4 linked regions of the Homo sapiens genome follow. The protein of the gene in region 1 interacts with the protein of each later gene in a pairwise test. Each region holds a gene or a part of one and is shown on either strand. Other genes may lie near its edges. The genes, in order: CEACAM6, HPCAL4, MSS51 and SHC3.

Region 1 (7,028 bases):
AAAGCAAATTTTTGTTGTGGGTGATGTTTATGAAAGTTACTTGTGTTAGGCAGAATAATGACCTCCTAAAAATGTCCACATCCTAATCCCTGGAACATGTGCATGTTACATTATTTGGCAAAAATACTTTGCAAATAAGTAAAGTTAAGGATCTTGAGATGGGAGGTTATTCTGGATAATCTGGGCGAGCTCAGTGTATTCAGAAGGGCCCTTGTAAGTGAAAGAGGAAGGCAGGAGGGTCGGAGTGAGAATGACGCCGCCTGAGAGACTCCACTGGCCGTGGCTGGCTGTGAACCCACATCAAGAGACAGAATTACAACAAATTTAGTTATAGAGCTAATTGGCTTTTATTTGTGATTTATGAATTAAAGCAGCACCACTCTACAAGTACAGTGATAGCTCCCCCTGGGCAATACAATACAAGAACAGTGGGTTTTGTCAAATTGGAACAAGGAAACAGAACCACAGAAATAAATACATTGGTTAACATCAGATTAGTTCAGGTTACTTTTTTGTAAAAGTTAAAGTAGAGGGGACTTCTGTATTATGCTAACTCAAGTAGACTGGAATCTCCTGTGTTCTTTTTTTTTTTAAATTGGTTTTAATTTTTTTTAATTGGATCTATCTTCTTCCTTAACATTTCAGTTGGAGTATGTAGCATTTAGCACCACTGGCTCAATGCGCTCACCTAGGTGAGAGTGTGACCAAATCTTAAAGCATTAGTGCTATTATCAGTTACCACCATTTGGGGCTTTTATCCTTCATGGGTTATGATGTTCTCCTGATGACACATTTCTCTGAGTTTTGTAATTCCAGCCAAAGAGAGACCATTCACTATTTGATGGCTGGCTGCATGCAGACATTTAAAGCTTTTAGAGAATACACTACACCAGGGAGTATGACTACTAGTATGACTATTAGGAGGGTAATACCAAGAGTTGGACTACGCACCTTAGGCAAGATACAAACCAACTAAAATAGAATAAAGAATGAGTCAGATGAGTGTAGCCATTTTAACCAAGCAGCACATTTGTTAATTTCTACAACTTAGTCTCAGCGATACCCATTGTATTTAGCCATGTTCAACAACAAGTGTCAGAAACTGCACAGACTCCTCCCTGTTCAGCTGGTAGGGAGCAATTCTATTATTTGGCATTGCATGGCTGGGTTGAATTAAAACAGGGAGTGAGAACAGGTGAGTCTAGAAGTCCAACTCTGAAAAGGACCACTGTACATTTGAACACACGGCTGTGTTAAAGATGCTGCTAATGTCAGTCACTGGGTGCACTAAAGGATCTCTTATTTTATGTAAAACGTTGGGATTGACAAGATAGATCTGACACTCTGTTAAGTTACCCTCTGAAGCTACTTCTTGTGAAATACTAATGACAGCATCATCCTGCCAAGCGAAAGAGGCAGGCATAAGCAAGGACAAATTAAAAGGGGGTAAGAGCCTTATCATGATGAGGAGTCTTGTTTTGACATCTTGGGAAAAGCTGTCCATAGTGTGAAGTCGTCAATTTCTCACCATGGTTTGCAGTTTGACTGTCTCTAGTTAGGTGAAGTCTCTGAGTGGCACACACCTCAGGCCTGAGGGTTTTCCCTTTAAATTTTCATTGAGTTGTCCATCTCCAGCATATAGGGCTTCAGGAGCAGAGCAGACCTTGTTTTTAGTGGTTCCATGGGATAAAATGGGATTGGAGGAGCTAGAAGAATTCAGGGTCTGGTCCAATCTATAGGTGGATAATGAAAATAAAAAACAATAAGCAGAGCTGTGATGTCATAACAGGTGTACTATAGTTTTTTTCAACATAATTTTTCTCTTCATAGGCATCTTTATTTCTACCAAAGATAATCCCAGTAAGACATATTTGTTTTCCAAATAAGTTTAGTCTCATCGAACTTGGCCTCATTCTTTATATAAGTGCAACAAGAGTAGCAGGTGACCACATAGTCTTTTTTTTTTCCTTTTGAGACAGAGTCTTGCCCTGTTGCCCAGGTTGGAGTGCAGCTCACTGCAACCTCCACCTCCCAAGTTCAAGCGATTCTCCTTGAATAGGAGTATAGGCCTATGTATAGCCCTATGTATGCACATGAATAGTATAGGCCCATGTACGCACATGAATAGTATAGGCCTATGTATGCACTCCCAGGCTGGAGCGCAGCTCACTGCAGCCTCTACCTCCCAGGTTTAAGTGATTCTCCTGCCTCAGCCTCCCGAGTAACTGGGATTACAGGAGCCCGCCACCACACCTAGCTTTTTTTTTTTTTTTTTTTTTGTATTTTTAGCAGAGACGAGGTTTTGCCATGTTGGCCAGGCTGGTCTTGAACTCCTGATCTCATGATTCACCCACCTCGGCCTCCCAAAGTGCTGGGATTATCGACGTGAGCTACTGTGCCCAGCCTGGGGTCTTTTCAAGTTTGTTTTACAGGAAGTTTTTATAAGGAATCTCAGATTAAACTTTTAGAAACCTCTTGACATGAGGAAGCCAAACCAAGGCCGACTTCAGACTTTGCCAGCAGTGCCTATGGGTTCATCTATGTATATTCCCAAATATAACATCCCAATCAAAGCCTGGGTAATATAACCAGTGTTTTCAAATGTATCCTGTTATAAAGGGAGCAGATTTTTATTGAGCAAATAACTATACTATTATATTTATTATATAATATTAATATTAATTAACAATTACAATTAGTCGTTAAATAATAATTATTAATTTATTAATAAATATTAATAAATTATTAAATAATGATCATCAAATAATTGTTTATCAATAATAATTATTTTATAACAATTAATATTAATAACTATATTTTTTGTGCAAATAACGATATTATTATAAACATATAAATATTCATGAATAATTTCCGAATTCTGGAGCAGTCAGGTAGGGAGAAAATATAGATGTTTCAATTTTTGTTCGCAAAATTGTTGAAGCTCTAGATAGCTTAAAAGAAAAAATGTTTCCTGAAATCTGGGAAACAAAACAAAGAATCCACAAAATTTCAAATAAAAAATCATAAAAATATTATTTTCATTATTATCTTTTAGTCTCATGAAATGAATTCTCTGCTTGCTCTTGGTTGGCAGTTTCATGAAGCTATCAGTTTGTTAAAATTTTGGAAATTCTTAAATAGTCTAATGGTATGATTTTAATGTTATCAGAAACTTGTATTCAAGAGTACATGTCGGAGTATTTTCTGTAAATATCCTCAATGAAGAAGCAATTTTGGATGGTAGCTGATTGCAAATGCTTTAAGGAAGGAAGAATCAAAATAATTGTCGGGGCTGGGCGCGGTGGTTCATGCCTGTAATCCGAGCACTTTGGGAGGCTGAGGCGGGTGGATCACCTGAAGTCAGGAGTTCGAGACCAGCCTTATCACCATGGAGAAACCCCGTCTCTACTAAAAATACAAAATTAGCCGGGCATGGTGACGCATGCCTGTAATCCCAGCTGTGCAGGGGGCTGAGGCAGGAGAATCGCTTGAACCCAGGAGGCAGAGGTTGCGGTGAGCCGAAATCACGCCATTGCACTTCAGCCTGGGCAACTAGTGAAACTCCATCTCAAAACAAAAACAAAAACAAAAAACAACCCCCCCACCAAACAAAACAAAACAAAAAACAATTGTCAGTGAATGACAAAGATTGAAAATGAGTATGGTTAAACATCTGATGAGAGTTCATTATGATAAGAATGCATCTCCCAGGTGAGGGGCGCCTCTGCCCGGCCGCCCCTACTGGGAAGTGAGGAGCCCCTCTGCCCGGCCAGCCGCCCCGTCCGGGAGGGAGGTGGGGGGGTCAGCCCCCCGCCCGGCCAGCCGCCCCGTCTGGGAGGTGAGGGGCGCCTCTGCCCGGCCGCCCCTACTGGGAAGTGAGGAGCCCCTCTGCCTGGCCACCACCCCGTCTGGGAGGTGTACCCAACAGCTCATTGAGAACGGGCCATGATGACAATGGCAGTTTTGTGGAATAGAAAAGGGGGAAAGGTGGGGAAAAGATTGAGAAATCGGATGGTTGCCGTGTCTGTGTAGAAAGAAGTAGACATGGGAGACTTTTCATTTTGTTCTGTACTAAGAAAAATTCTTCTGCCTTGGGATCCTGTTGAACTGTGACCTTACCCCCAAACTTGTGCTCTCTGAAACATGTGCTGTGTCCACTCAGGGTTAAATGGATTAAGGGCGGTACAAGATGTGCTTTGTTAAACAGATCCTTGAAGGCAGCATGCTCGTTAAGAGTCATCACCACTCCCTAATCTCAAGTACCCAGGGACACAAACACTGCGGAAGGCCGCAGGGTCCTCTGCCTAGGAAAACCAGAGACCTTTGTTCACTTGTTTCTTTGTTCACTTGTTTATCTGCTGACCTTCCCTCCACTATTGTCCTATGACCCTGCCAAATCCCCCTCTGCGAGAAACACCCAAGAATGATCAATAAAAAAAAATAAAAATAAATAAAAATAAAAATAAAAAAAGAATGCATCTCCCATAGACATTTAGTTACTTCTGTGGCATATGACATTATGGCTTATAATCTGTTAGATTTCTGGGAATCTCTTATAATTTTTGGAACACTCACATCAATAACATAACCATAAATATAACTTAGAGAAGGTTTAGCATCACTTATCATTTGACAGTGCTTCCCATATAATGTAACATATCAAATAAGGCGGCTTTTCCTTTTAGTTTCTGTTTCTCAGTTAGATTACTGAGTTCTTGGTGGAGCCCATTAATGAATTAGGCCAACAAAGTATAGGCCCATGTATGTTGAAAAAGCTCCAGAGGTAATTCTAATCCTCCTAGCTAAAAACCATGGGTTTAGCCCCAAGTCCTACCTATTAGAACAGGGATCCTCCATCGTGGCTACACATTAGTAGCGTCTGGAGAGGCTTAAAAATTACCAATGCCTGGGTCCCACTCCAGATCAGTAGATCAGAATTTATGGTTGGGGCTTGAGCATCCGTTTTTAAAAATGTTTCGGAGTGATTCCAATGTGTAGCTATATTTCCCATCAGATTTATCTGAATTTTTGTGGCATTCGCTCCTTTCTACTTTGGTATCATGATTATTTTTCAGGTCTTATCTCCTGTCTTGGGCTTTATGTTCCCTGGGGGTAGGGACCTTGCCTTCTTCATTTCTGTATCTGTTATGAACACATGAATTGATTGTCAGGAAAAGGTTCTCAGCCACATGCAGGATGTGTCCAAAGTTCACATATTAATACTACACAGTCTGTGTTCTCCATGAAATAAGAGGTTGCTTGTGATGAAGGGTGTGAGTAAGTCCACAGGGCAGGTAGTGGAGGGGAGATCACCCTGTTTTTAGGTGTAACATTGAAACTAAGAATTCTATGTGCATCCGGGGTAAAGGGGCAGGGATGTGTAGAGAGTCAGATTCTAATTAAGATGGAGGAATTATACTGGGAAGTAGAGGGAAAGAAAGTAAGAAGAATTAGTAAAGAGAAGAAATTTGAACTTAACTAGTAGGCCAGAGCAGGTTCCTTTGGCTTCTTTTTTTTTTTTTTTTTTTTGAGACGGAGTCTTGCACTGTCGCCCAGGCTGGAGTGCAGTGGCACGATCTCGGCTCACTGCAAGCTCCACCTCCCAGGTTCACGCCATTCTCCTGCCTCAGCCTCCCGAGTAGCTGGGACTACAGGTGCTCGCCACCATGCCTGAATAATTTTTTGTATTTTTACTAGAGACGGGGTTTCACTGTGTTATCCAGGATGGTCTGTATCTCCTGACCTCATGATCCGCCCACCTCGGCCTCCCAAGGGGCTGGGATTACAGGCATAAGCCACTGTGCCTGGCCCCCTTTGGCTCCTTAAGTAGGTGAGTGAACTAGATTTTAGGAAGGTAATGAGGCAGTCATATGCAAGAAGGATTCCAACCTTACAACAAGGGGTCAAGCAGGATGTTGAACAATTATTGAGGTTGATGGGAATGGAGAGACTGACAAAAGTGAGAGATGTTGAAAAAGGACGAAGAGGCTTTGACAATGTATTGACTCTAGGAAACAAATGAGCAGAGGCTGGGGATAATTATATCTAGGAGACAGTGGGGTACAGGGAGCATGAAGACCAGGGAAGAAGAGACCTGCAGGAATTAGTGCTGAGAAGCAGGAGTTTAGCGGTAGAAGGAGATCCAGTCCCAGATACAGGTGAAGAAGTTTTTTTCCTTTCCCAAGCATGGTGGTCAGCCCTGCAGGAAACATGGCAAGAGGAAAGGCGATCATACCTGCCAGTCTTCCTGAAATATCGAAAATACACCAGGGCTGCTATATCAGAGCCACCCTGGCCAGCACTCCAATCGTGATGCCGACGGTGGCCACAGCTGAGAGGACAGGAGCACTTCCTTGTGGGAAGAAGAGAGAAGGAATGAAGGTGATGTTATTCTACAGTGGGGTCCCCAAGAACTAGCTGTCAACATGAAGTAGGCTTGACTTGTTCCTTCAAGGAATACACTAGTTTTGTGGGAAAGTTGCAATTTTTTTTCTCTCTTACCACGTTTCTAGGTTGGTGATCAGTCTTCTGTCAATTTCATCCTGTTCTTTCTGCACTCAGACATTTTTGAAGGCTTTGAAAATTTGAGAAAGTCTGATTGCTATTTTTGCATGTCATTAGAACTTTCTATATTTTTATGTTTGCATCTTTTTCTCAGTGTCTCAATTGTGGCAGCCATGAATAAGAGCCTGTTGGAGCTCTATGGCAGGGACTTGATGGACAGAAGGCCCAGGCTAGTGCATTCTGAATTTACTATGTTCTTTGCACAGAGAACTCACTTCCCATGGGCTCCCACCAGGGGAAAGAAAGCAAGCCCAGGTCTGTGAGACCCTGCTTCACTCTCATGGGTGAGGGGTTCAAGGACTCCCCATCGGTCTTGGGGAAACTCAGAACTGCACTGCTATGTAAAACTTCCCTCCTTCTCTTTCTCCTTCTCAGGAATGAGATCTGCATCGTGGTCTGAGGGCTCTCTTAGGCTCTCCTGTCACTGCTGCTCCACCTTCCCTCATGGCTGTTTTACCCAGTGA
Region 2 (7,028 bases), on another chromosome or scaffold:
CTCTTTGCAAACCTTGCTTTTTCCTGTCCCTGAAGTCAGCACCCAACCGGAGTAAGTATGTAGCAGAAAGTTGCTTGTTGAATTGAAAAAGGTAATAAAAAGGAAGAGCTGAAGCAGCAAAAACTGCTGAGAGTGGCAGCTCAGGACTTAGTCTTAAAAAGTGTTATCTGGTAAATTTCATGGTCTTTTCTCCCTTTCTTCTCAGGTTTTTTCCCCTTGAAAATTAATATTTTCTCTATTCATTTAATCATTTTATAAGAAACCAAGTAATATAGAGTATATTTTAACCTCCTGAAATAATAAAATGACTGTAGCTCCTTTAAAGGGTACTAAAAAAATAAGTATGACATAAATTTCATTTTTCTTAAAACTTTCACTCACGTGGCTCCTAAACTTCCAAATGCTTTTCATTTCGTCCTTCTGCAGCTTTGTGTGGAGCTGAGCTGGAAGATGAAATAGCTCCTCCCAGACTAACCAGCCTTCCAGCACCTTCTGCTTAGCTGAGACCCTGACGGCTGGAAGTTTGCCTCACAACCCTATGAGCTTCCAGAGGGCACAAGATGTGTCTTGTAAATGACCATATCCTTAGCACCAAACAGGTGCTCAGTAATCATTAGCTGAAGAAAGGACTGAATGAACGCTCCAAAGGCTGGGGCTGGAAGGGCCAGGTAGAGTAGAAGGGATGGGGAAGAGACCCCCTTTATGGGATCTGGAGCCTCAGGAATGGACAGACCCAATTTGGCCCTGTGACAGGCCTGTGGGACCACATCCTATAAAGCATAATCCCAGGATCAAGAGAATTCCTAACCAGAACCCCAGGCCCCCAACTCCTTAACCTCACCTCCTGGGGCAAAAGCCAACTCCCCTATGCCCAATGGACATTGGTTCTGGCCAAGTGGGAGGTGGGGCTAGAAGACAGGGTACTGGAGGACCTGTCTCTTTTGCAGGGTGAGGTGGTCCCTCAAAGATCTTGATGGAGGGGAGGAAGGGCTTGGGCAGAGGACTGGGTGGGCCAGAGAGGGGGGCTGGAGTGTCCCTCCTCCTGGGAGGCCAGCCAGAGAGGTCATCAGGTTGGGAGGTGGCCATGCCCCTTCTGGCCAGGGACCCTGCCCCTCACCAGCTTCTACTTCTGCATGTCACACTGCAGCAGCAACACAATGGATGGGTCACTCTTGGCTGCCTCCTTGAACTCCTCCAATGTAATCTGGTCGTCCTTATCCTGGTCCATCTTCTTGAAGATCTTGTCCACACGCTGCTGGGGCGTGAGCCCGTCCTGGTTCATGCGCATCATGATCACGGTGCCCACCATCTTGTAGATTGCCTGGTGAGGGAAGGAGGAGGGAGGTGTGAACACCCACAAGGGGCCCCGAGAAGCAGCGGGTGAAGGAAAGGGATCTGGCAGGGAGAACACTGGGGGTTGGTGAGGATACTGGAAGGTATATGTGGTCATTAAGACTGGATATTTAATGAGCAACTCTTTTTTTTTTTGAAACAGAGTTTCGATCTTGTTGCCCAGGATGGAGTGCAATGGCGCGATCTCGGCTTACTGCAACCTCTGCCTCCTGGGTTCAAGTGATTTTCCTGCTTCAGCCTCCTGAGTAGCTGGGATTACAGGCATGCACCAACACGTCCCGCTAATTTTTGTATTTTTAGTAGAGACGGGGTTTCACCATGTTGACCGGGTTGGTCTCGAACTCATTACCTCAGGTAATCCACCGGCCTCACCCTCCCAAAGTGCTAGGATTACAGGCGTGAGCCACCACGCCCAGCCCTCAACTAATTTTTTATTTAGACTAAATAATATTTATGTGGATGAAACATGCCAGAAGCCCAACTCCGTGGAGACCTTACTGATGGGGCTCCTGGCTCCCCGTATGACCACCTTCCTATCACTCTCTCCCTCTCATGGCTCTCCCACCACCGGGCCTCCTGGCCCCTCCTTGAACTCTGCAGAGAAAGGCCGACCTGCCTTAATTGCCCCTCAGCATGGAACGCTTTCCCCCAGGCATCTTGCAGTAAAGGCCTCACCCCATTCAGGCTGCTGCTAACTTTCCATCTTATATAAAGTAACTTCTCCATCACGCGCTCTCCCTGCACTTTGCTTAGTGTATCTTCCTCATAGCACCTACGGCCTGACCCCGCATGTCTTCATTCATTTATTTTTTAAAAAAATTTCTCACTAGAAGGAATGCCCCATGAAAGCAAGAACTGGCAGGCGCTCAATCCCTGCCTGTTGACAGAATGAGTTGAAAACATCAGCTATGAGGTCAGACTCCCTGGATTGGAATCAGGAACCCGGCCGTTTCCTCCTCTGCCAAATGGGGTTTGGGACAGTAACCAACCCCTCCGCCCCGTCGAGTGTCGGGTAAAGCATTTAGCCCGGGCCTGTAGCGGGGTGGTAGGAGGCGGGATCGCAGGCTGGGGAGCAGCAGGGAGGCCCCGAAGCCCGAGAGCAGCGCGGAGGCAGGGGCGGGGATGGCGAAGCGCTGGCCTCGGGAACAGCAGCGCCCGCGCGGCCCCGCACCTCGATGATCTCCAGCATCTCCAGGCGCGTGATGCGCCCGTCGCCGTCCAGGTCGTACATCTCAAAGGCCCAGTTGAGCTTCTGCTCGAAGCTGCCGCGGGAGGTGACCGACAGGGCGCAGATGAACTCCCGGAAGTCGATGGTGCCGTCGCCGTTCTTGTCGAAGGTGCGGAAAGCGTGCTGCGCGAACTTGGAGGCGTCGCCGTAGGGGAAGAACTGAGGGGGGTGCGGTGGGTTGGGGCGCAGCGACAGCCCCGCCCACCCCGCCCCCATCTCAGGGAACCTCCCCTGCACCCCGGGTGCCTCGCCTCCTCCCACCCCGGGTGCCTTGCCCCCGCCACCCCGGGTGCCTCACCTCCCCCGCACCCCGGGTGCCTCGCCTCCCCTCCCACCCCGGGTGCCTCGCCTCTTCTCATCCCAGGGTGCCCTGCCTCCCTCACCCCCGGTTCCTCGCCTCCCCCAACCCGGGTACTTGGCTCCCTCACACCAGGTGCCGGCCGCCCACCTTGATGTAGAGCTGCTGAAACTCCTCCAGGTTGAGGATGCCGCTGGGGCAGTCCTTCAGGAAGCCCTTGTACCACTGCTTCAGCTCCTGCTCGCTGAACTCAGTGTTCTGAACAAGGTCCTCCAGCACCTCGGGGGCCAGCTTGCTGTTGGTCTTCCCCATGGCGGGGCCTGTGGGACAGAGGGATTCCTCCGACTGGGTCCAGGGAAAGGCCCTGCCTCAGCCACAGCTGCCCCCTCCCCTGCCACACACAGGGCGGGGTTGCAGGTTCCTTCCCCTCATGACACTCCCCCATAATGGGGCCTCCTCTCCCCTCACAACACCTGCATTCAGGTAGGTTTCTTCTCCTAGCCCCGGGGGTCTCCCGCCTTCCAGGTCTCAGCTCTCCTCCTCACTGACCGTGCAGCACGCCACAGTCTTCATCCTCTCCCCTCCTGCTCACACCTTTCATGGCTCCCCTGCCCACAGACTAAGGCCTTGACTCCTCTCCTTGCCATTTAGGGCTTTCTGAAGTCAGCCCCCACCCTCCTTGGCAGGCTTCTGTCCTGAGAAGGGACCCAAGGTAGGTTCCTTGTGTGTCCCCTTGGCACTGTCTCCCAATTTCTTCCTCAAGGCTTTCTTGGGCCACCCCAGCAGGGAGCTTCTCTCCCTCTTTCCTCTATACAAATAGAAATCCTCTACTGACATTTGGCTTTTCATTAATCCATTCATTCCCTGAGCATTTATTGAGACTGACTGTGTGCTAGGCCCTGTGCCAGTGATGGAGATGAAGCAGACATGAGCCAACCTTCAATAACTTGTAACTGGGTCAAAGAGGCAGATGGTTGGTTACAAAGGGCCTCCAATCCATGCCAAGAAATTGGAGGGAACAGACGCTCCTGGGATTTTTTAAAACAAGGGCTGGGAAGATTGCATTCATTCCACAATATTTACAGAATGCTTATGATATACCCAGTCTTGAACGAGTCACTGGGGACCCAAGAAAAGGTATGTGTTTTAAAATTTTTCCAGGCTGGGCACCGTATTTCATGCCTATAATCCCAGTACCTTGGGAGGCTGAGATGAGAGGACAGCTTGAGGCCAGGAGTTTGAGACCAGCCTAGGCAATACAGTGACACCTAGTCTCTACAAAAAATTTAAAAATTTGGCTGGGCGCGGCCGGGCACGGTGGCTCACACCTGTAATCCCAGCACTTTGGGAGGCCAAGGTGGGTGGATCACGAAGTCAGGTGATCAAGACCATCCTGGCTAACACGGTGAAACCCTGTCTCTACTACAAATACAAAAAAATTAGCTGGGCGTCGTGGCAGGCGCCTGTAGTCCCAGCTACTCGGGAGGCTGAGGCAGGAGAATGGCGTCAACCCAGGAGGGAGAGCATGCAGTGAGCTGAGATCGCGCCACTGCACTCCAACCTGGGTGACACAGTGAGACTCCACCTCAAAAAAAAAAAAAATATATTGGCCGGGCGCAGTGGCTCACGCCTGTAATCCCAGCACTTTGAGAGGCTGAGGCAGGTGGATCACGAGGTCAGGAGATCAAGACCATCCTGGCTAACACAGTGAAACCCCATCTCTACTAAAAATACAAAAAATTAGCCAGGCATGGTGGCGGGCGCCAGTAGTCCCAGCTACTTGGGAGGCTGAGGCAGGAGAATGGCATCAACCCCAGAGGCGGAGCTTGCGGTGAGCCGAGATCGCTCCACTGCACTCCAGCCTGGGCGACAGAGTGAGACTCCGTCTCAAAAAAAAAAAAAAAAAAAAATTCACTGAGTGTGGTGGTGCATGCCTGTAGTCCCAGATACTTGGGAGGCTAAGATGGGAGGATCACTTGAGCCTGGGAGGCAGGGGTTGCAGTGAGCTGAGATGGCACCACTGTACTACAGCCTGGGCGATAAAGAAAGGCCCTGTCTCAAAAAAGAAAAAAAAGAATTTTTCCTTTGGCCACAGCATGCAAGATGACCTTTGGTGGGGGCAGGTAGGTAGAGCAGGGAGGGGCCTGCTACACGGTTCAGGTGAGAGACAATGCTGCCAGAGTAAGGGTCGTGGAGAGACGTGGATGGGCTGAGACGTTAAGAAGGGCACTGGCAGGACTTTGCAGTTGATTGGATGTGGGAGTAAGAGGAACAGAGGAGTTGAGGCAGAGGCTCAGATTTGAGCCTCAGTGGATAGAAGTGTTGTTGCTGAGAAGCAGGTTTGGGAAGGATCAAGAGTTATTCCCCAGTGGGAATGTGAGCCCGTAAGTGGGCTGTGCCAGGGGAAGTGTTTGAAGAGGTACAGGCCCTCCTCAGGAAGTGTGGCCAGACCTTGAAGGCAGAGTGGACCCTCCTCTCTGACCTCCCTGGGAGGAATGTCCCTGCAGAGTCTGGGTTTCCCAGGACATGGCTTGGGAGGTGCCTCTGACCTGCCTAGAGTCTCTTTGGAAGAGGGTCAGGCTCCCACCCCAGGTAGCCTGTCCTCAAGATACTCTGGAAAAGGAAGCCCTTGGGCTGGCAGAAGGAATTCCACTCCCATAGCCCGATGTCTGCCAGTGGGCTTCTAATTCTTACAACTGGGAAAACACTAAATAGCAAATCTGAGGTTGGTCCATTCCTTCCCACTCCCCTTTGCTGGGCTGACCTCAGGCTAGTTACAGATCCTCTCTGGGCCTCAGATTCCTCCACTGGGCCATAAGGAAGACCAAGGAGCAGTGCAGGTAGCAACATCCTTCCCCACTCCCAGAGGATGAGGAATTGTATGCCCTCAGGAAAAGCCAGGGAGGGGGAGCATGCCATCTTCAGGAACCTGAGGCTGGGCGGAAAATGGCTACACTGAGGCCAGAGCAAGGATGCCTCTGGAACACCCATAGGCAAAAGGAGGCAGGCCTCACCCCTCTCCCAAATCCAAAGGACTCTCAAGGCTCAGGGTATAGTCAAGGAAGCTGGAGAAGTCAGGCAGAGATGTCTGATGGGGGGAGGCACAGCCTCTCCAGCTGTCTTCCGTAGGATGTGCCTGAGAGTCAGCATGAGGGGCTGGGTCTGTGTGTGGGAGCATGTCAATGTCTGAGGCTGCAAATCTGTCAGAGTGCACACGTCTCTCTGTGTGTGTCACAGTGTCTGTGTGGCTCTCACCTTATACCCCTTTTCTCCTCCCTGCTCTGTGCTGCCTTCTCCACAATTCTCTGTCTCCTAGGGTCCTTCCTGTTCCCTGCTTTTATTGGGTCTCAGACCCAGACTATGCCTCCTCCTTTATTTCTCCTCATTCCCTCTAGATCATCAGAAGGTCAAAGCTGAGCCTGGGCAAGATAAGGAAACCCTGTTTCTACATAAAATTTAAAAATTAGCCAGACATGGTAGCATGTGCCTGTAGTCCCAGCTGCTCAGAAGCTGAGGTGGGAGGATCACTTGAGCCCAGGAGGTTGAGGCTGCAGTGAGCCGTGATTGAGCCACTGCACTCGAGCCTGGGCAACAGAGCAAGACCCTGTCTCAAAAAAAAAATAAGTAAATAAAAAATTAAGAAAAGAAGGTCAAAACTGGCCGTGCCCTTTAAGATCATCCCCTTATTTCAGTGAAAATGGAAATTGAGAGATAGGAGAAAACTGGCTCAGGGTTACACAGCAGGTCAGTGGGAGGGCCCAGATGAGCACTCAGGCTGAATCCGTGCTACCTGCCTGGGCCACCGTCTCCAAATCATGGCTACTCTTGTTCAGCACAGACCTTCTCCACCCACATCTGCCCTCTGGGAAAATCAGAGCTCTGATCTCCCTTTTGGCCGCAGTGGAACCATCTGGGGCCACAATCTCTGACACCCAGGAGATAGCCACCCTAGGGGTGTCCACCAGCACCTCTGAGACAGCAAGTCTACAGCCAGACTCGCTCCCAACCAGAGATGGTCAGACTGTCTCTGTTGCCCCTTCCTTCTCTCCCTCATCCCCGGGGTGTGGGGAACACAATCTTAGTTACCTTCATTTTTTCCCTTCCCTTTGCCCTAGGTCTAACTTGCCATCAAGTCCTGTTGTCTCTTAT
Region 3 (6,855 bases), on another chromosome or scaffold:
ATGCAAATCAGAACCACAGTGAGATATTACTTCATACCCACTAGTATGGCTATTATAAAAAAAAAAAACAGAAAATGACAAGTGTTGATGAGGATATGGAGTAATTTGAACCCTCGTACACTGCAGGTGAGAATGTAAAATGGTGCCACCACCATAGAAAACAGTACGGCAGTTCCCCAAAAAGTTAACATAATATTACTATATAACCAGAAATTTCATTCTTAGGTATGTGCCCAAAATATTTAAAAACAGATACTCAAACAAATACTTATATGTGAATGTTCATAGCAGCACTATTCGCAACAGCTAAAAGGTAGAAACAACCCAAAGGTCCATCAATGGATAAATGGATAAACAAATTGGGATATAAATATACATATGAAGATGTATATTATTCAGCTATAAAAAGAAATGAAATACTGATACACGCTACAATGTAGAGGAACTTCAAAAAACATTATACTAAGTGAAGAAAGCCAGACACAAAATGTTGTATACATGTTGTATGATGCCATTTCTATGAAATATCCAGAATAGGTAAACCCAGAGACAGAAAGCAGATTGGTAGTTGCTAAGGGCTGGGTGGAAGGGAAAATGGGGAGTAACTGCTTAATGGTTATGGGGTCTTCTTTTGGGGTGATAAAAATGTTTTGGAACAAGACAAAATTGATGGTTGAACAATACCGTGAATACACTAAATGCCATTTAATTGCTCACTTTAAAATTATTAATTTTATGTTATATGATTTTCACTTCGATTAAAAAAGAAAGGAAGGAAGGTATTCATAGAGATTGAGAGGCTAAAAAGTTATTAATCCCCAGATTGTCTTCAGGTACAGAGAAATAACAGAGGATTAAAAACGCTGGCAGTGTGAATGAGGAAACTGTTAAAGTTCAAACCAGGGATCATGTTTTGTTACAAAAATGATCTGACATTTGATCCTTCTAGATCAGATCTGTTAGGAAAAACCTCAGAATCATCATGCAGCTGAGGTGTATGCAGGTGGCAAAAATAAACAAAAAGCTCCCAGAATTATCCAGCTCATATCCATATCTTACAACATGACTCTTAAAAACCTGTCCTCAGGTTAATGGAGGAACAAATTTGTATTTTCCTTTGTACTTTCTATCTCCTCATCCTTATGTTTCCATCCACCCTCTTAATGTCTCCCCTTATCCCATGGGTGAATGGATGGTTTCAGTCCACAGAACAGAAATAGTCAAGCTCATCTGTATACCATATCCTATATATTACCTTCAATGAAGAAATTGGACCTAATGATATTAGATTATCTTAGGGTTTAAGGGTCATGTCCTTTTACCAAAAGAGTAAATGGAATTGCCCTTCACACTTTAGGGCCCAATTTCCAACAACTAACCTCATTCTGTCCTCCACTTTTAATCACCTCACATTCTCATTGCATTTTCAGAATCACTGCCATTCTACAAAAAGCATTTATCTACTCTACCCACCTGCCTCAGGCAAGATAACATTTTCTTTTTCTTTCTTTCTTTGAGACAGAGTCTCACTCTGTCACCCAGGCTGGAGTGCAGTGGTGCGATCTTGGCTCACTGCAACCTCCACCTCCCGGGTTCAAGTGATTCTCCTGCCTCAGCCTCCTGAGTAGCTGGGATTACAGGCTCGCGCCACCATGCCCAGCTAATTTTTGTATTTTTAGTAGAGATGGGGTTTCACCATGTTGGTCAGGCTGGTCTCGAACTCCTGACCTCGTGATCCACCCACCTCGACCTCCCAAAGTGCTGGGATTACAGGCATGAGCCACGGCGCCCGGCCAAGACACCACTTTCTTAAACCTTGAAAGAATGACTTTTTTTTTTTTAAATAGGTATGGAAGGAAAGTGTGATTTGAGACAACTCTAGGGTCTTAAATCCCAGAATTTATAATAGATATCTCCCTGAAGTTAAAACATAAGCCTTTTTGCTGCAATGGAAGCAAGCCACTTAAGGTCAGAAAGGTACTGCTTTACTTTTCCGCATTTCCAAGGTGAGGTCTTCCTCTAAAGGAAGATTAGCTCTTGGCAATCTGGGAGTTGGCTGAACTGGTCAGAAAGCAAAAGGATCACACAGTTTGAGGAAGAGGAGTGGTGGTAAAAATCCCTAATGTCACAGTCTCCTCTGTGTCTAGAGCACAATGTTCATGATACAAATGAGTTAGCTTTCTGGCAGAAAAGAAAGAAGGTGGGTGAGAAGCCAGGTCTTTGATCTGCATCTATATACATCATCAGGTTCATGTTTGAGTTTATATACCCCAGGCCCAGACACAGCTTCCCTGGTTCTAAATCTCCTGTAAAGAGCCCCAGGCTACTCCCTGTTCACAGGTTATAAACTGAGAGAAACAAAGGAAAAAACAGGGGACTCACAGGAGAAGCTGGAAAGAATTGCAGTAAGCTCTTTGAACTTTCCAGAGTCTAGAATGCTCTCCACTTAGAAAGGGAATCCCTTTCATTTTTTTCTAGCCATCCCCAGTGACTTAGGCTCTAATTTAGTCCCAGTATAAGAGAGAGAACACCAACACCAAGAACTGGAGAGGAGACATGATCTTGATTGCCTAGAAAAACTTTTATCCTTCATGTCCAAATTCAAGACAAAATATTAATCTATTCCTAGACCTAGGTTTCCCATCTTCTTCTTTACCACCAAGAGTCCCAAGTTTCACCTAAACTACAGTCATATTTTCACTATCTCCAGATAAGGAGTGCTCATCTAATTTTCTGTAAGTCACCAAAAAATGCAAAACGTCTTTGGAGAGGTAGGGAGAAGGAAGACTGAAACTGGTCATTGGAGATCCTTATAAGGGGGTAGGAAAAGAGAAGGAGAAATACATTAAGGACACTGTAATTATGGCCACATTCAGCTGTTTAATCAGTGATTAACACTGCCTGGGGTGATAAATACTTTACTCAATTATAAACTAAGCAAGCAGACAGGTTGACGGAAAAAAAAACTTACCCTGCTAAGTCCTCAGCTTCCTTCCTTCTCTCTTTCCTCCAAGTGAAATGAGTGCTTGATCTCTTCAGATCTAGGTTGTGGCTTACTTGCAGCTGTCCCTTCATATCACTTTCCTTTGCAAACTGCTGAAATGCTGAGTCTCAGTGATTAAGTGTGCCCTGCCAACCAGACAGACAAGGCTGAATTCTCCCTAATGAGGCAAAGAGGGATCTGTCCCCCTGCCTGAGGGCTTCTCTCTAACCTTTGTTCTCTGCCAAGGGGGCTCAGGACTGTCAACACTCCCAAGTGTTAGCCAAGTAAAGGCCAGGCAGGCTGACAAAAAATGAAACCTGCTGCTTCCTAGACTTCTCTCACTCAAGGCAATATTTCTGTTCTCAGTTTACAGCTTCAGAAGAAAACCCTTTGGATTAGTGCAGAAGTCAATATTTGATTGGAAAGGGTAAGCACCTTTCCAACCAAGTGGGAGGAACCAGAGGACCCTCTGGAGTTCTGTTTGTTGATCTAGACACAGGATGAGTTCCCCCAGGCCTGGTGTCCTTTTTCAGCATAACAAACATTGTTCAAACAAAACTCAACAATGTCCAATCTTGGATTAAGTAGAAGGGAGAAAATAAATGGCCATTTAATGGTACAGAATGAAATCAGTTGTAGGGGAAACATGCAGAATTAACTTGTAAAATTCACTTTCCCTGAAAGAAGGGTAAGATAACTCTCTGAGTGAGAGAGTCATCAGGAGCACTTTACCTGTATTAAGAGAGGAATAAATGCTTCTGGGATATTAAACAAAACCAAAATACTAGTTAATGACTAAAAATACATACTATTTCTAGGAAAAGAAAATAGAAAAGAATCAGCTCAACCATTCTCTTATCCTCCTTGTAATTGCAGCTGATCCAGGAAATTCAATTCCACAGTCCTAGCTTCTTTCTACTTACAGCTAGCCTATCTGAAGTTGTTAGGGCAGTGGTCCTAAAAGACTGCAAGATCTTTCTTACCCTCAAAAAATTTTTTTAAAATTTTTAAATAAAAAAGTTCTGACTTTCTGCTTATATCTGACCCCAGCTCTCACTTACCTGCTTCTTTGAACATCATCAAACTGGGGAACAGAATCACTCGCAATGAGGTCCCGGAATGTGGCAAATCAAATCCACACAGGAACCCCAAACTGTAAAAAGTACAAACTACATGCAGGGAAGGTGGAAGAAAAGTGTTAAGGATTCAACCAAACACTGCATAACATTATGTAGAATAGCTGTGGATAAAGGAAAATCAGTTGCAATAGGCAAAAACCCTAAATAAAATAGGGGTAATTCACTTTGTGCAAAAGTTTCAGGCCAACTTCAAATTTAACAGGCTTCAAAATTTATCTGAGAACCTCAAATGTTTTGAGTTCTGTTAATAATGGCTGAACTGCAGAAGATACAAGACATCAGAGATTGACTTTTCTAATTCAGAAGTTGTCAATGAATATAAAGGAGAATAGTAATATAGAAAAACTTTGATGTTGAATACTTATATTTTACTATCACTATGACTTGCTCTGGTAAACATTTAAAGTTACGAAGTCTGAACTTTTCACAATTTGTATTCATCATGAGTTGCATTTAAAAAATCTTAATAAATGGTATGCTGTGAAATGAATTATGAAGAAAGACTAGAAAGAGGTTCCTATTCAACATGTAGGAAGTGGTCTGTGAGGCACTATGTGATACTTTATCACTCTTCAGGTATTTTGCTTTTCCTGAGTTTGGTTCCTTTCTCTTATTTTCCTCTTAATTTTTACCATCAATCCATAGTTTTTTTGCTAATACTACTTAATGCTCACCCATGATTCCCACAAACACTATATAATGCTAGTTATGTACCTAAGGGCTAGGAAAGTTCCTGGCACCTAATATACTAGTTAAACTCTTACTTACTTTTTAATTTTTCTATTGGGTCTATTTTAGCCAGATAAACTCTTTACTGAATAGCTTTCATAAAACAACATCGACAACAATCTTTAAGGTATGCAACTTTCATAAACAACATAGACAACAATCTTTAAGGTATGCAATGCATAATAACTTTAGAGCCAACTCATGGACTGCTTTGTAAGTTAATATTTTGGCAAGCAGAGAGTTATAATAATTAACAATTTGTGGCCGGGTGCAGTGGCTGACGCCTGAAATCCCAGCACTTTGGGAGGCTGAGGTGGGCGGATCACGAGGTCAGGAGTTTGAGACCAGCCTGGCCAACATGGTGAAACCCCATCTCTACTAAAAATACAAAAATTAGCCAGGCGTGGTGGTGGGCACCTGTAGTCCCAGGTACTTGGGAGGCCGAGGCAGGAGAATTGCTTGAACCCAGGAGGCGGAGGTTGCAGTGAGCCAAGAGCATGCCACTGCATTCCAGCCTGGGTGACAGACAGAGATTCCGTCTCAAAAAAAAAAAAAAAAAAGCAAAAGAAAAAGAAAAAAGAAACAATTTGAGAAGTTCTGTTTGTTACCTGGAATTAGGCAAGCATGTGTGTGTGTGTGTGTGTGTGTGTGTGTGTGTGTGTGTGTGTGTGCGCTTGCCTAATATATTTACATATATTTTGTTTGTTTTTAAGGGATGGGGTCTCACTCTGTCACCCAGGCTGGAGTACAGTGGTACAATCATAGCTCAACACAGCCTGCAACCATGAGCTCCTAGGCTCAAGCAATCCTCTGTCTCAGCCTCCCAAAGTGTTTGGATTACAGGCATGAGCCACTGTGCCCTGCCTATATTTTGACTTAGTGTTTTATAATATATCTCATTGTAATTATTGTTGAGAACTATAATTCAAGTTATTGTATGATTATATAATTTTGAGCAATATCCTAATATCCCTCAATGTGCAAAATCCTATACTTATTGTGATTATGACAAAGAAGAAAGGAATGATAGGAAAATGCAATTATCACTAATATTTTTCTTATTGTTAGAACACCCAGTAAATTCCCAATACCACTATAACAAAATTCTAGACAATAACATATTTTCTTTCAATTAAAAGACAATAAACAGTGATCTTAAATATTAGACTTAGGAGGCCTACAGTAGGCATTCAAAGTCCTCTAGTGCTCAGTTACTAATGCTCATGTAAAACAAGTATATAACAAAAGTTTTTTTTAAGGCAAAATTTATAAAGAATTTAATTAATCAAATTACCATGAACTATCCACGAGATAATCTCCGGAGGACATCCCAGCTCTAGTAACAGGATTTTCTGATTTGCATCAAAAGGACAAATCAGATTGCATCTTCCAAATAAAACCCAACACAGAGATAGGAGCAGCGGCCCATGCATGGAATTTATTGTGTGCTACTGTTTATAAAATACTCGAATAGTCCTGCACATGCATAATATTTCCAACTTAGACAGGAGACCATACAGGGTGCACTTTCTGGCAAACAAAACAATAGATGGTTCCGCTGCCTGGAGCTCTGAGTTGTATTCCAGGGCATGAGGGAAGCAGGCCACCAAAGTAAAGGGAAATACCAAACTACAGTGGCAATCAATACAGGTCAATAATTGTGAAAAATTAGCACATGGTTCCATTTAGTTTAACCAAGCAGTTCAGTAACTATCAAAAGAAAGGTTTCAACATGCAGTCTTGACTTTTATGCTTCCACTAACATCTGAATGATTGAACAGAACCATTGCTTCTAGGCTGCATTGCTTAATCAAAAACACTTCCAGAACATTTTAAAATTTCCTTTGCATTAAAACATAAAAATGATAGAAAGCCAGCAGCAAATCACCCTGGTGGCTCTCTAAGCAACTTGAGTACTCACAATAAACTAAAATTTCTCATAACATCTAGGTAACCTATACATGTCGTACCTGTACATCATAGGTCTATATATTAAATATTTGC
Region 4 (7,028 bases), on another chromosome or scaffold:
TACAAAAACAAGCAAAAAACAAACAAACAAAATATATATATATATATATAGATGTGTGTGTGTGTGTGTGTGTGTGTGTGTGTGTGTGTGTATTGGGTCTCTATCTCATTTCATATTCAAAAGTACCTTCAGTTGGAATTAAAGTCTACATGTGAAAGATAAAACTATAAAGCTAACAAAAGAAAATATATATTCAAATCCAGTATATTTGTGATTTGTGGGGGAGAAAAACTTTAAAAGTCAAAACCATCAAGCACAAAGGGGGAAACCTGATGGATTCGGATGCATCCCATGAAAGACTTCTATTTGATGAAGAGTATCACAGACAAAATTATCAGATAGATGAAAAAAGCAAGAGAATACATGTGAAAATTCTGTTGCTGAAAACCTCAACAAGAAAGCCCAATCTGAAAGTCAAAAGAAAAACATGGAGAAAAGATAAGAACATAAAATTTACAGGAAGAATCTGCTAATTTACTAATGAAGTGCAACCAAAGAATTACAAATCAAACAATGAGGTATTCCCTTTCTCCCTACTCCCACAAACTAGCAAACCTAGAGACTCTCTCAAGGAAGAGCAAGGATGTTGCTGGTGTGCGCCTTAGTAGCTCAGCCATTCTGAAAGCAAATGCAAGCCCTAGGGAAATTCAATGTACGTGTACCCTGTGACCAAAACGCCACTCTTGGCTCCTGTCCCAGAGATACCGTCCCCGGGTACAGAGAAAAACATGCGTGAGAGTTTGTAGCAGCTTAGTCATCCTTCTCAAGAGAGCTCAGTAAGTGACATGTGGACTGCATACGTGACGGGCCCCAGGCAGCCCACCACAGTAATGATCTGATAAACAGAAACCACCATGGACAGATCTCAACAACATATACAGTGGTGGAAAAGGAAGAAACAAAATGGGATTTGTGGAACAATAACATGTTTGCAAACTTCTTTTTTCTTTTTTTGAAACAGAGTCTTTCTCCATCACCCAGGCTGGAGTGGAGTAGTTGCGATCACAGTTCAGGGCAGCCTTGACCTACGGGGCTCAAGCAATCCTCCCACCTCTGCCTCCTGAGTAGCTGGGACTACAGGCAGTCGCCACCATGCCTGGCTAATTTGCAAATTTCTAAAAGGCACAAACACAAAATATGTTTTCTCAGAAGTACATATATGTTAAAAAAAAAAAAAAAGAAGGTGGATTGGAAGGAGATAGGTTACATTCATGAGGAAGTGGCTGTCTCCGCGGAAGGGAAAGAGGAACTAGCTACTGGCTGGAAGTGGGAAGTGGCTGCTTCTGCAGAGACAGAAAGGGGAATTGTTCAGAGTGCCAGGAGCTGGGGTATTCAGGCAACTGAGTCTTGGCACCTGAGGTAATAAACTGTCTTGGGTAACACCCCCACCCCCGACACATGCAGTTTAATTGTGTTCCAGTCCAACTGAGACAAAGGCTTCATCCCTCCCTGTCAATCAGAAAATGCAATGTTCTTAACTCCTATTAAATAACTCTACCCTGCTTTGTTGTTTTCACTGGATAAAAGGTTTTAAACAATCCTGGAATTTCACTCAATGGTTAGGTTGATTTAACTGCATTTATTAAACTTAGCAATTCTTGGACTATGCCCCAGGTAAAGATGAATGTCTTTCTTGACGGGAAGATGAAAAATTCAGCCAAACCTACGGGATTATTCAGATACAGCTGTAGTGCCAGGGATGGCCAACATCAGTAGGAGTTACTTCTCTAAACGGGAAAACAAGAGACTTAGCAATGGGGGTTTCATTTACTGATCATCACATTTTACAGCCTTAGAACAAAATCCTCAGTGATTCAACTTTTCGAGATAAGCATTCAAGATAAATATTAAAAGCCTAGGAGCCTGTACTTCCTTGTCTACTAGAAATGTGTTTGTAAGGAAAATGCTCTCAGTTTCTGTATTTATTTACTTTAAAGGACATAAAAGTCAAGGCTTTCAGCCTAGGCCATAATTCTAAAAGTTTTAAAACTTGTGTGGGGCCCTGACCACTGGCTCCTGGCTCCTGGCTCTGGCCTGATGACAGGAGTTGTCTGTCCCTGCGTTCCCCTGGAGGACTCAGTAGGCACTTGTGGATAGAGGTGGGAATGTGGAGGGCATTTGACAAAGTGGAGACTGTTTAAGGCAGGTCTGCACCCACTGGCAGGTCCGGCCCCACCCCCACTGGGTGCTCACCGTGCCTTCTGGGTCCACGAGCAGCAGGTGCTTGGCCTGGCCATTGTGCATGCCCGTGAGGACAAAGGAGCCCGGGTTGGTGGTGCTCTTCCTGACCAGGAAGTCTCCGTCTTTCTCCAGCAGCCCCTCTGCCTCCTTCCTGCTCATCTCTCCTTGGTACCAAGTCTCGGCTTGCAGTTCCTCCAGCATCTTGGCATCTGGGGCTCTAGGTGACACAGGGCTGATGCACTCCACGGAGGCTGCCTTGCTTAACACGGGCCCCAAGGGCTGGTTCTTGAGAGCATCTTCAAAAGGTTCTGTCATCAACAATATTGACCAGCAACAAGTCAATCCCAAGAAGAGCAAATGATAAAAAAAAAAAAAAAAAAATACAGTGAGAGAGATGGAAATGCAAAGGCAACTCCTCCAGAAGGGGAAAACAAAAACCAATGGAGACAACTAACTGGCTGGTAATATAACAAGAGCCATCATAACAAGCATTGAAAAGCACAGCCCAAATTTTGGCATGACTTTCTGATGAGTCTGCTTTCCCAAGACAGCTGGGAGTTGTGCTATGTGCCAAGGAGTCAAGCACACCCTTTGTCTAGCTAGCTGGAATGACTTCATTTTTGCATGCTGCAAGAGGCCATGAATATCACATGCCACGTACTTTCTCTGGAACTTCAGCCAGCCTCTTTAACAAATTCTGAACAAAAATCTGCCAATACCAAAGGGAAAGACAAGCTACAAAGCTTTGATTTTATGCAAAACCTGAGCCCAATCCACCAAAGGTTTATTTCAAAATCTTTGCATCAGGCAAATTTTTAAAAGAGAAAGCTGACGGGTGTTGGGTTCCTCTTGTGTGACTTGCCCCAGGCTAGGAGCTCCACCTTCCCTTAACCTTCACTTGTTTCCCTGTGGAACGAGGCTCTCACATGAGTGCCTGAGACCATACTTGGTTTCATCCCCTTCAGAGCACACTTCTCAGTGCAAGGCATGTGTGAATGGTGAGACTGCTGCTCTAACAAGAAATACCAGCAGCAAAAGAAGTAGCCAGGCATGTCTAACTAAATCCCGATGTTCGATTTTCACATAAGGTAGTGTGTATGAAAGGACTCTGAAAAATGCACAGTGCTATGCAAGTGGAAGGTAGTGCGATGGTTATTTCAGACTACGCTGTCTACCCATAAGCATACACATACATACAACATAAGCAGCACAAGAACAGGAGTGGTTCTTTCCTGAGCATAACTACACCCTCAGAGCCCAGCATTGCTCCTAGCACACAGTTCATTCAGTATAGTCAACAGATGCTGTAAAATAAGCCAAACTTGTTCGATGTTAGTACAGCGTGGGCAGAAGTGAGGTGAGTAAATGAAACTAAAATTAGCTCTTTTTGATGCTTATTAATCTTTGACAGATTTGGAGATAAAAATAAGTTAGAACCATTGGCAAAAATTATGTCTGTGGAAGTTCTTTTTCATCTGACTTTTTTCCTGATTACCTGGAATTGTCATTTGTTTTATACTGTTTCTACATCATTACCACCTTTGCTATCATCTACATCATCAACATCGTCAGCATCATCCCCAACATCGCCACCATCCCCACATTCACTTTTATTGGCACCACCACCACCATCAGCATCACCGCCATCGTCGCCATCGTCATCACCATTATCACCATCATCCCCATTGTTACCATCATAACCATCATCATCACCATCATTGTCACCACCATCACTGTCACTACCAGCAACAGCAGCAGCAGCAATAGCATCACCACCATCAACACTATCATCACTATCCCCTCACCATTATCACCACCACCATTACCATCAGCATCATCAGGATCATCACCATTATCACCATCATCCCCATTGTCATCATCATCATCATCACCATCATTGTCACCAGCATAACCATCATCATCACCATCACTGTCACCAGCAGCAACAGGAGCGGCAGCAGTAACAGCAGCAGCAGTAGCATCACCACCATCAGCACCATCAGCACTATCACCATCACCATTGCCACCACCACCACCACCACCATCGGCATCACCACCATCTCACCACCATTATCACCATCACCACCACCACCTTTGCCACCAGCACCATCATCAGCATCATCACCACCATCATCACCACCACCAGCACCATCAGCAGCAGCATCACCACCATCATCATCACCATCATCATCACTATCAACACCACCACCATCAGCAGCATCATCACCATCATCATCATCACCACCACCATCACCACCACCACCACCATCAAAATTACCATCAGCAGCAGCACCATCATCACCACCATCATCACATCAGCACCGCTATATTTAGATCTACTGGTTCAAAATAAAGAACACAGAGTGCTGGCTTTATTTAGTTCCATACTTTTCAATAGGCACCAGCCTTTCTAAGGCTCTTTTCACATCCTGTTTCCCCTCCTTAGGTTTTGAAAGCAGGAGGAGAAATTAACTGGTGGGAAAAGGGTAGCTCTGGTTCTCATTTTTTCATCCCAAACACCAGCCAATCTAACTTTCCTTAGGGTCCGTGTCCAGGAGTCATTGGTAAATTGACTATATTAAACAGTAAAAATGGTCTAACCAGACATGGAACTATTAAACTGCAGTTTGGAGGTACTATAACAACTCCAGCAAAAGCTTGGAGAGCCACCACTGTGCTTTGCATCTTGAAAAAGTGGCTTCACATTTCTCAAGCTGTTTTCACATTTTTAAAAATAAAGGCACTGGCGGGACTGAATTAGGTGATCTAGCATTGAAGGTGGCTTCAAGCATTAAGATTCTACAGTTCTTGCTTAGATTATTTTTGTTAAGTCAAAATGGGGGTCCAGTGTGTCTGGGAAGTCAAATTTGCTGGAGAGAAACAGTGTTGTTTTCATGAGGCTGCCTAATTATAAAGGCACTTAACACTGTCCTCACTCATACAAAATACCACAAATCACAGATATTGGACCAGCAAGGCTGCCTTTCACAAATGATAAAGTTAGTTAACTTCTAGGATTCTTCGTTTCCTTCTCTGTAAAATAAAGATAACAGTAGTTATCGTAATACCTACCTGTAAAAATTTAAAAATAAGTGTTTAGCACATGGTAGAAAATCATTCAGAACTAGTCTCCATTCCCTCCCTCTTCAGCCTATAAAATTCTCGAGGAATATGAAAAGCAAATTTAGCTCTTGTGAGCTTGTGATGCTCTTTCAAAATTTTTTAACAAAAATTTTCACTTTCATTAATCAGTTCATGAACGATTTAATTTCCTCAGTCTATATGACAAACAGAAAGTCTGTGGTACACATCCCACTATAATGCTATCTGCAATAGATTCCTATTACTCTCCTTATCCTGTTTAGTTTTCATAACTGAGGAGCATGTACCACTACCTGGTAATAGATACCTCCACGAGGTAGAGACTTTGCTGGTTTTGTTTTCCTGTATATCTCCATCAAGTAGAATAGTATTTGACAAATGGTAAGTGTTCAGTAAATATTTGGAGTGAGGTAAAAGGTGAGCAAGAGAGAAAAAAGGAGAGAAAAAAATGAGAGCACAAGTGGGAGGAGAGGAGAAAGAGAGAGAAAACCCTCATAAGAGAGAGGTGTGTTGCAATTTCTTGCCTATATGTTAAATGTTGGTCTGCTTCATAGACCTAGAGATCCGTGGAAACACGGGCCATGCCATTTCATCTTTGCATCCTTAGCAACTAATACAGTAGCTGGCACATAATAGCCAATTACTATTTAAATGAATAAATAAACATTTGTGTATGTATATTGTCTCAATACATTTGCAGATCTTCAAGAGGAACGTCAATTCCAAAAAGAGGGGGAAATTGCTCTGTCTCTTGACTACAGAGAGGGCTATAATCCTAAAGCCTTAAACAAACCCAATCATCACCCAGAAAAGTACAGCTAATCATCACCATTAACCAAAACCCTACTATCAGAAAATTCAGTAATTACACAGATTTCAAATAAAAGGCAGGATAAAAAGCAACCTCAAAAGAAAAGAAAACCAGAGACAAACAGAAACCCACTCATGTCAAAGAGGTCTTTCCTTGGGCTGCTCTCAGCACTGCTGACCGCAGCCGGCCAGGCCTGTGGTGGGATCTGCTGAGTGTTGACGTAGGTGGGTGCTTCTCCCGTGGGGGCCACGTGCAGTTTCCCTTCTGGCGTGCTGTAGATGTCCGAGGACCCTGCAACAAGAAAGTGAGCCCCTTTTCTTTTACGATGGTGACACTATTCAAGCCACCCAGCCTTTCACAAAGAAGCTCTTCTGCCTGCAAATGGGAAACCTCCTCCTTCGGATTCCTATGGGTGATATTCTCCTCTTCTGAGCTTGTCACCACACACTGCTGTGACCCAGCTAGGATGTTTTCCAGTCCTTCATATCAGCATGGGGTCTGCCAGCCAATGTCAGGGTGGACACCTTGATGGCTCCACTGTGATGGCCTTAGCAAAAATTTTGGCCCTTGCTGCCCCAAGACCGCAGGAGCCTGGCAGGCAGAACATGCCTGACCTCCTCTCCTTGACAAATGCTCCAAGATCAAATAACTGAGCAGAAGGACCACAAGCCTTATATTAATTGCTCTTGTTTTCTTTTTAAATATAAGCAAATGCTTTATAAATTAACTTCATTCAAGCAATACAATAGAAGCTCTGTACCTCCTAAGGAACTGAGAGAGACTCCTTCCTTATAAAATAGGGCTGCAGTTACTGCCCCTGGGTCTGTGAAGGAAGCCCAGGGTGGGTGTGCAAGTGAAGAGCCCCCTCTGCTGAGGCAGTGATGCTGCCTCGATGTGACTTCACAGCTAGCCAATGGGTGTGCTGAGGCTAGGC

The links.
Region 2: the proteins of CEACAM6 (region 1) and HPCAL4 interact in binary tests that used the Homo sapiens proteins (3 or more experiments, as listed by UniProt).
Region 3: the proteins of CEACAM6 (region 1) and MSS51 interact in binary tests that used the Homo sapiens proteins (3 or more experiments, as listed by UniProt).
Region 4: the proteins of CEACAM6 (region 1) and SHC3 interact in binary tests that used the Homo sapiens proteins (3 or more experiments, as listed by UniProt).

Annotation. Positions count from the first base shown.
Region 1 is NC_000019.10:41,765,507-41,772,534, reverse strand, and holds the end of CEACAM6 (cell adhesion molecule CEACAM6 preproprotein), read right to left. Parts: intron 6,353-7,028; coding exon 6,276-6,352; 3' UTR 6,236-6,275; intron 1,734-6,235; coding exon of another isoform or gene 1,717-1,733; 3' UTR 324-1,716; downstream 1-323. UniProt on the Homo sapiens protein: Cell surface glycoprotein that plays a role in cell adhesion and tumor progression. Intercellular adhesion occurs in a calcium- and fibronectin-independent manner.
Region 2 is NC_000001.11:39,681,413-39,688,440, forward strand, and holds part of HPCAL4 (hippocalcin-like protein 4), read right to left. Parts: intron 3,200-7,028; 5' UTR 3,192-3,199; coding exon 3,030-3,191; intron 2,741-3,029; coding exon 2,525-2,740; intron 1,322-2,524; coding exon 1,124-1,321; 3' UTR 1-1,123. UniProt on the Homo sapiens protein: May be involved in the calcium-dependent regulation of rhodopsin phosphorylation.
Region 3 is NC_000010.11:73,430,542-73,437,396, forward strand, and holds the start of MSS51 (putative protein MSS51 homolog, mitochondrial), read right to left. Parts: upstream 3,021-6,855; 5' UTR 2,972-3,020; exon of another isoform or gene 1-2,971.
Region 4 is NC_000009.12:89,035,800-89,042,827, forward strand, and holds part of SHC3 (SHC-transforming protein 3), read right to left. Parts: intron 6,386-7,028; coding exon 6,227-6,385; intron 2,490-6,226; coding exon 2,194-2,489; intron 1-2,193. UniProt on the Homo sapiens protein: Signaling adapter that couples activated growth factor receptors to signaling pathway in neurons. Involved in the signal transduction pathways of neurotrophin-activated Trk receptors in cortical neurons.